Regions from separate parts of the Homo sapiens genome. Here region 1 is linked to region 2. The links come from fine-mapping of genetic effects on gene expression. A gene starts in region 2. The other region holds a variant in brackets. All regions are shown on one strand. Distances are between the middles of the regions.

What was found. PIP is the estimated chance that this variant, and not a neighbour inherited with it, causes the effect. A credible set is the group of variants that fine-mapping cannot tell apart.
Region 1: its variant is the best candidate, but not a certain one, in a credible set for the expression of CYTH4 in whole blood (TOPMed, PIP 0.55).

Annotation. Positions count from the first base shown.
Region 1 is chr22:37,220,684-37,225,069 of GRCh38, reverse strand. No RefSeq gene overlaps it. Among named protein-coding and RNA genes, the nearest start is that of SSTR3, 10 kb to the right of the region's middle. RefSeq lists a silencer at 2,148-2,287. The variant A/G (reference allele first, on the strand shown) is at 2,473.
Region 2 is chr22:37,280,264-37,284,649 of GRCh38, reverse strand. It overlaps CYTH4 (cytohesin 4), which reads right to left and starts at 2,142. Exons shown (of 13, transcript NM_013385.5): 1 at 2,062-2,142. The coding sequence starts at 2,080. RefSeq lists enhancers at 16-125, 738-787, 2,334-2,383.

The DNA of each region.
Region 1 (4,386 bases), 60 kb after region 2:
GTTCAGCCAAAAAGAGCAAATGTCTATCCCAGGCAAAGTTCTAACTAAGATTTACTGTGATTGGACCAGCTTAGGTCCTGGGCCCCCTTTTAACCAATCATATTTGTCAGAGTGGTGCAGTGCTGTGCTCTGACTGGCCAGGCATGGACCATATGCCATGCTGGAACAGAACTGCGGCAACCCCAGCGAAAGCGTGTGTACTGGGGGGGAGGGTGAGTTCCAAAGTGGGCTGAGAGCCTGGCGGGAATTTGGGAATTTGGGCGAGAAACCCTCAACCTCCACTACTGGAGGTCATGGGAAAGTGTTCATTTCAGCAGTGAAATGAAACAATGCTGGACCCCGAAGGTGATAAGCAAAGGGGAGTTTCTTTAAAAGAGAGGCGGGGTTGTTGTGAGGATTTAAGAAGTTCCGACATGGGCACAACAGTGCCTGCACAGTCAGTCCCACCTCAGGACTTGCTAAGTTCTGTGGAGGTGCCAGACCTCCCCCTCCTGCGGACAATTACTCTCCTCTATCTCAACTTCTCACTCATTCATCAAACACACATTTATTGAGCACCTCTTCTGTGCCTGGCACTGTTCTAGGTGCCAGGGATCCAGCAGTGCTCAGAAGTCCCTGCCCTCAGGAGGCTGACACTCTAGAGAGGCTAAGAGATCTAAGAGGCTGCCCCTGACAACCCAGAAGACCCCAATTTCCAGCCCATGAAATGCTTGAGTTTCCACATTGTGCTTTCCCAGAGCTCCCAGCCAACCCCACTATCCCCATTAGTCCCCATGTTCTGAGGCAGGACCCCCTCCAGCTCACTCACCTCCTGGGAGCCCCCCTTAAAAGGGATTAGGTGCAGAGGGGAAACCCCTTTGCTTTTCTTAGTTTCAGCTCAAAGTCATGATGTTTTCAAAGTTACTTCTCTTCTGAAACAGAAAGGAAATACTAAACCCCACCCATCCATGGCACCATACAGATGCAGGCGGCCAGGACCCCACTCCCTAGTATGTTCGATGTCTAAGATCCCTGAGGCACCCCCTGAGGTTGGCCAGAGTCTGAGGGAGCCTCTTTCTGATCCCTCCTCTTCACAGAGCCTTGGGATAAACTCCAGAGCCTCCGCAACAAACCATGGCCCTGAAGGTCTGGCCATCCTCTGCCTCCCACTCTTATTGCACTCGTGCCTCTACCATCAGACTGGACTGTCATTTCTTCCACTCCACATTCATGCTTCTTTCATTCCAGGCCTTTGAACATACTGGACCCCTTTCCTTTGCTCCTGGAACTTCCCTGCAGGGCAAAGGTGGGCCCGGATCTCCTTCCATGTGTGTTCAGCCCGTTAGGTCGACCCCAGTAGAGACAATCTTTGCTTCTATATGATAATAATGTCAGTAAATAACTTCCTTTACTCATTGTCTTGGCTCCCATGCACATATTATCTCATTTAATGTTCTAATAGCCTTCCAAGATAGGTACTCTTAGCCACGGTTTGCAGAAGAGGAGATGAGGATGCGGGAGGGCACAGGTTTGGCTCAAATTGACAAGGCAGATGCTGTCCTTTCCCACCCTCTCCCTCTGTTCCCATCCTCCTTGCTAACAGAATCCTAGTTTTGTGCATAGCAGCACCGTACCTAACACCAACAAAATACTCGTTTTTCCAGCTGGTTTTGTCACTGGGGTTTTCAGGCCACATAGTTCTGGCCTAGAAGCCGATGTGAATGAAAGTCAGCGGGAGAGATGGCTTCTGTGAAAGTTGTTTTCTTCCTTAAAAAAATGACAGGCCCAGGCCGGGCGCGGTGGCTCACGCCTGTAATCCCAGCACTTTGGGAGGCTGAGGTGGGCGGATCACGAGGTCAGGAGATCGAGATCATCCTGGCTAACACGGTGAAACCCCGTCTCTACTAAAAAATACAAAAAAATAGCCGGGTGTGGTGGTGGGCGCCTGTAGTCCCAGCTATGCGGGAGGCTGAGGCAGGAGAATTGTGTGAACCCGGGAGGCGGAGCTTGCAGTGAGCCGAGATTGCGCCACTGCACTCCAGCCTGGGTGACAGAGCAAGACTCAAAAAAAAAAAAAAAAAAAAAATGACAGGTGGGATGTCTGGAGCTGCAGCAGCCGTCTTGTGAGCTTGAAGCCACAAACATGAAGATACAAGGCCCCGTGCTGAGAGGGGATGAGCAGAAAGATAAAAGGAGCGTGAGTTCCTGGCAGCAGCAGTGGGCAGCTGAGCCAATGCTAACAGCTGCCTTGTTATGGGAACTGAAGAAAATGAAACCACCCAATTGTTAATGTCACCGTTGGTCACACCTTTTGTTACGGTAAGCTGACAGCATTTGTCACTGAAGCGGTAGGACTCCTAGCGCAGTGCTCTTCCCACTGTATAACTGTTCCCAGCAGCCACTCCAAGTGGGGTGAGCCACTTGTTTCTGCTCTGCAAATTGGCTGAGGATGGAGGCCCCTCATATAGGAAAGAGAAAGCTTATGGGAAGTCA[A/G]TGAGAACCTGTTTTGAAACAGGAAGACCTGCCGGTTGTGGGCAGGAGCTGACACCATGGTTTGCTCTTTCATGTGACAACAACCCCTCCCAAGTGCCCACCTAGTGCCAGGCCTGGGCTGGCAGCAGGTTCCATGCCTCACTTCGCCCCTTCTTGCAATGAAATCATGGCCTGGTGGTTGAGGAAAGTGCCTGCCAGACAAGGCCACTTCATCTGGTGCTTTCTATTCTAGAGACTGGCTGTTCCTTGTCCCTTCTTCAAAGCGGAGGCCTGGGGTCCCCCAAACTCCTCCGATCCTTTCACCCTGGCATTCACTGGCCACCAAGCTTGGACAATTCAGCCTCTGTCTATTAAATCCACCCCTTGTCCCCACGGCTGCTCCCTAACCTAACCCCTGCCATGTCTCCCCTGGACAGTAGCCACAGCCTCCTCACTGGCCTCCTGTCTTCCCTCTCTCTGCCTCTACTCCATTTGCCACCAGGTGGCCTGGGGATTTTCCTCATTTACAAACAACTGTGCAGTCAAAAATGCTGATAGAACCACAGACTTATTCAATCATTGAATCCTTCAGCAAATAGTTATTGAGACCGTGTGTCAAGCCCAAGGCTTGGGGGTGGGTCAAGCATGAGCCCGCTCTCAGGAGCTCACAGGCCAGTGGGGAGGCTGTCCAGCCAGCAGAGAGCCCCAGGAAATGGCCCTTCTGCTTGGATGTCTCCTGAGCATTTCAAACTCACACGCCCCGCCCAGCCTTCATCACTCAGTAAATGCATCCAGGCTCTCAAATCAAAAACCTGGGAGTCCTCCTTGACACCTTCTCCCTCACCTTCCACTTCCAACCCATCACCGACAATCTCCTCAGTGACCCCCTTCTCTGCATTGTCATGGTTTCTAATGTCCAAACCAGCACTGTATCCTCCCTGTGGTAGCCTCCTGTCATAGTCAGCAATTGGTACAATAATGCTGTGTAACAAACCAAACTGCCTTGAAATCCAGAGGCAAGAAGCAGCAGGCCTGTATTCTCACACTCACTAGTTGTAGGTGGACAGTGGGTCTGCTGACTTAGGAGGGTTTGGCTGGTGACTTGGCTTCGGGCTGGGGATGGGTGGTCTCGGTCCTGGCTGTGGGTGTGTGTGGGTCGGCTCCACCTGTCTCTCATCCTCCTTAGACCAGCATTCCCTGGGGCATGTCCTTCTCATTGTGGATCACAGGAGCATGAGAAGCCAAGCCAAACCATGAGGTGTTTAAGGCCTCTGCTCATGCTTCACATGGCCGAGCCCAACACCACCAATGGGGCAGGGACAGGAACTCTTCCCAGACTTGGAGGAAAGGAAATATTTGCTGAGCACCAACTGAGCACCAATCCTAATGCTCACACCTCCTGACTGGCCTTCTTGTTTTCACTCTTGCCCTTGGCCATGGTTTATCTCCACGGAGTGGCCAGAGTGATCGCGTTAAACTACCAATCAGATCAGACCACTCCCTTGTATAACACCGTCCAGTGGTATCTCTGGACATTTGGCACGAAACCTCCTCCCTCACCTACAAGGCCTATAGGATGTTGTCAGTTTCTACCTCCAGATCTCACTTGGCACTATCTTCCCTTTCCTTGCAAAGCTCCAGCCACAAGGGCTGTGATCTGGTTTGGCTGTGTCCCAACACAAATCTCCTCTTGAATTGTAGTTCCCATAATCCCAAGGGAGGAACCCAGTGGGAGGTAATTGAATCCCATAATCCAGGTGGGAGGAACCCAGTGGGAGGTAATTGAACCATGGGGGAGGGGGACGATTACCTCCATGCTGTTCTCGTGATAGTACGTGAGTTCTCACAAGATCTGATGGTTTTATAAGGGTTTTCCCCTTTTGCTTGGCACTTCTTCCTGCCATCATGTGAAGAAGGATGCGTTTGCTTCCCCTT
Region 2 (4,386 bases):
CGAGGTCCGGCTAACTCCCAATCCCCGCTTCCCCAGGCCAGGCCAGGATGATGGCACCCACGTAGAGATGACAAATCAGAACTCAGAGAGGGGAAGTCACCGTGCCATGAAGAAGCCCCATTTAAGACCCAGTCTGGGCAACAGGGAAATGACCTTTTCTCCCTCCCTCTGGCCTCCTCCTCAAGGAGGTCTTCCCAGATCTCCTCTGCCCCAGTGGGAAAAGTTGCTTCCTCCCATCTGTAGGTCTGTGTCCATTTGCACAGCTGGGTCAGGGTCCTGCAGGATGTGGCTCCTGCCTCTCCACCCCACCCCCAACATTCCAGACCAACACCTGTCCCCCAGGGTTAGGCCCATGGCTGGGTCACTGCTGTCCCCAGCACTGCATAGCACACTGGAAGGTCGTTTGTAGAGTGAATGAATGAAAAGACCAACTACTCGATGGAGAACCCATTGACCCCATTTAATCCATTTCCTCCCTAGTACCGGCTGAAGCAAAGCAGAGACTCCCCTCCCCTGCCCTCTCCATAGCCCCGGCCAACCTGGGGCTCTCTCCCGCAGGTTCTCGTCCCTGCTCTGCTGCTGACTGGCCGTGTGACCTCAAGCAAGTCAGTCCCCGTCTCTAGTTCACCTCTGGGAGCCTCAGTTTCCTTATCTGCAACATGGAGACAGCCATCCCTGTAACCTCAGTATGTTAGGACCCGAAAGGACAAAGCGCCCTGCTGGACACACAGGCAGGGGGGTTGCATCTCGGTGGGTGCCCTCCCCCCCTCATCCCACCCTCATGTCTGCTGAGAGGCCTGAGCCAGGTGCTGCCCTTCGCTGGGTCTCCCTGTGCCAACCAGGTGCCCCCAAGCTGTGCTCACTGAGCTGTGATTTTGGGAGCCCCCAAAGCCCATGGGAGAGGCAGGGGTCAGAGTGAGCCCTGGATAGGGATTCAGGGAACAGGATTTGGTCCTGCTCCTGCCTTAGAGAGGCTGTTTTCCTCCCTTGGCCTCTTTTCTCCCTTCTGCCACTGGGGGGGCTGTTGAAATGGATCAGTGGTTCTCTGGGTTCCCTGGGGCCCGAGGCTTCCATCTGGGGGTGGGGAGGAAGGGGGATGCCCAGTGGGCGGGGCCAGGCTGCTCCACATTAGGTGCGTTTGAAGCAAGGGTGCTCCTGGACAAGGCTGAGGTCATCTGGACCTGGGGAGCAGACAGCTCCCACGAGCCCTTAGGTTCTGGAATTCCAGCAGCCGTGTTCACCAGAACTGTTGCAGCTCTGGAGCATGCTGACATCCAGGGTGCAGAAACTTGGCCCCTCTACCGGGCCTTCAATTTGCCTCCCAAAACACGACCCTGATGTTCTTTTCCTCACCATCTTTGCAGCCTCCTTTCTCCTCTTTCTCCCCAGACACATTGTCTTAGTAGCTGGGGAGGGTTTCAACCAGAGCCTCTGTTGCTCACTCCTGGCCCTCCCCTGGCTCTAGGCAGCGTCCTCAGCCTCCCCAAAGACCACCCCAACCCCCGGGGGCCAAAAAGGGGCCTCAAGGCCCTTGTATCACCCAGACAAGCATCGCCATCACCAACATCCCATCATCATCTTAATCGCAAGTCACTTTTCTGAGTCCACCTCTGAGCCTTTGGACTGGCTGTTCCTTCTGGCTGGAATGTTTGTTCCTTAGAAAGCCCCTTAGCTGACATCTTCCTCAGGTCCCTCATCAGACAGCATCTCCTCTTGGGGCCTTTTCCACCATGCATTCCTGTCTTCCTTACCCTGCTTTACTGTTCTTCATCCTACCTGCCATCAACTGACATATGGAATCACATTAGAGTCACTGCCGGTCTCCTCATCTAGAGCACAAGCCTATGAAGGGGGAAACAGCGTCTGCTTTGCTACTGCTGTGTGTCCAGCCCCTAGAACGCAACTGGACACACAGGCTGAGCCCACAAATGTTTGCTTCTTGCAGCTGCATTTCCCACCTGCGCTGTATTCCTTTATCTAGGACCCTGTGAGGCAGGGGCTGCTGTCCCATTCTAAAAGAGAGCACCCTGAGGCCCAGAGAGGTTGACGGCAGTTGCTTACCTGGGTGGCACAGGTCCATTCCGACGCCTCTGGGGAAAAGATGACCCGTGCTCCTGTCGCTTGCCGACCCAGCTGCTGTTCGGGCTGGCCCGGCAAGGATGCGTCACCTTGACTGTAACAGGCTCCTTCCTGCTTGCCCCGCCCAGCCCTGTGTGGGGAGGAAGTCAGTCCTGGCCCACGGGGGTCTCGTGTGCAGGCTTTTGACAAAACAGCACTTCCTAAAAACTGGCAGAGTTTTGAGCAGCAGGGACTTTTGCCAGGGAGGGACAGAGGTGGAAACAAACAAACAAACAAACAAACAAACAGATGAAGTGAGGGGAGGGCCAGATAAAAAAGAGAAAGACAGTGAGACAGAAAGAAACACACAGACACATATGCACATACACACGTACACATGCACAGACACCGAGGGCGATGTTCACTGAGGACGAACATTTTCCAGGGGACCATGGGCATTCACGTGGCAGCCTCCTCACATATATGCCATAGGAGCGCCCAACTTGGACAGTCCTAGCAGGGCCCCCTGTGTTCCACCCCACAAGCTCTCTTCCAACTCCCACTTGAGAAGAGACAAATGAATTCACTGCTAGGAAGGGCTTTGCTTCCCTTCAAAGAAATATCTGGCTTTTTCTTGTCTAGTGAACAATCGGGTAATATGTTCCACTTTCCTTCTCCCCCAGGCTGCTGGGAAACTCATCGTCAAATCCAAAGCTCATCGACAGCTATTCTATGATGTCATGTGAACTTTGGGGCCTGACTCAGCTGTTTGACTCTCAGCTAGGGCTAGTCAGCCTCGCTTTGCTTATCTCTGAAAGGGGAATAACACTAACTCGGGGATATGGAAACCATGGAGTGAGAGGATGTGTCGGAGATGCTTGGGACATAGTAGGTGCTCAATAAACACTTTCTCCTTTGATTTTAATTATCTTCTTTGGTTAAAATGTATCATGTTATTCCTTGTGCCTTTTCTGGCAGGTTGGTTCAAATCCTTTCTGCAAAAAGCTTTGCTGTAAAGAAACAGGTATAAATTAAATGTGAATTCCCTATAACTTCAGGACACATGCAGAGTTATTCATCTGTTTCCCCATTACTCTCCAGGCCCCATGAGGGCAAGGTTACCTTTTGTGTTCTGGTGTGTGGTAAAATGCTGGGGACATAGAGGGTGTGCAAGTGTGGAATGAATGAACAAATGAATGAATGAATGAATGAATGAAGGGAACATGGAAGAGATCACGGCCGATGTGAAAGCTAGCTACAAGTTCACCTCCTTTTCACTATGCCGCCGCTTCTGCTGTCAAGGGGCGAAGTCCATTTCTCCTTCCTTGGAAGCTGAGCTGGCCTTGGGCATCTCTTTGACCAATAGCACGTGGCAGAAATGATGTGCCGTGATGTTCGAGGCTGAGCTTTAAAAGGCCTTGCAGCTCCTGCTCTTGCTCTCAGCCCCCTGCCTGGCTACCATGAGAACAAGCCTGGGCTAGCCTGTTGGAAGACGGAGGACCACAAGGAGATAGGCTGGGCTGTCTTGGCTGTCCCCTGGTTGCTGCCTCATCAGTGAGGCCAGGGGACACCAGAAGAAGAACCATCAAGCGGAGTCCCACCCAAACTGCTGACCCATAGCACTGTGGGAAATAATACATTTTTGTGGTTTAAGCCACCAACTTCTGGGATGCTTTGTTATGCAGCCAAAGCTTGCTGATACAGAAGAAATCCAATGCTGTCATTTCCTCGGAGAGAAAACTGAGGCTTATTTCTGGGAAACACTTGACCAAGTTGGAACTTGAGTGAGTGCCAATTCAGGCCCAGAAGCCAGGCCTACTAAGTCCCCGTCTAGTGTGCTCAGGATTTTTGAACCCCGCTGCTTCTCCCCTGCCCTGCCTCCACCTGGGTTCTTGTATAACTCATGGTTCTTTTCTGGAAAACTTGTTACAATTATTTCCATGGTAAACTAGATTTTTCTCAACTGCTTTGGGCCTGAGGCACCACAAACCATGCCCTTGGCCATTTTAAAACTAGAAATGTGGGCTGGGCATAGTGGCTCATGCCTGTAATCCCAGCACTTTGGGAGGCCGAGGCGGGTGGATCACAAGGTCAGGAGATCAAGACCATCCTGGCCAACGTGGTGAAACCCCGTCTATACTAAAAATACAAAAATTAGCTGGGCATGGTGGCGGGTGCCTATAATGCCAGCTACTTGGGAGGCTGAAGCGGGAGAATCACTTGAACCAGAGAGTCGGAGGTTGCAGTGAGCTGAGATCGCGCCACTGCACTCCAGCCTGGCAACAGAGTGAGACTCCGTCTCCAAAAACAAAACAAAAGAAAAAACAA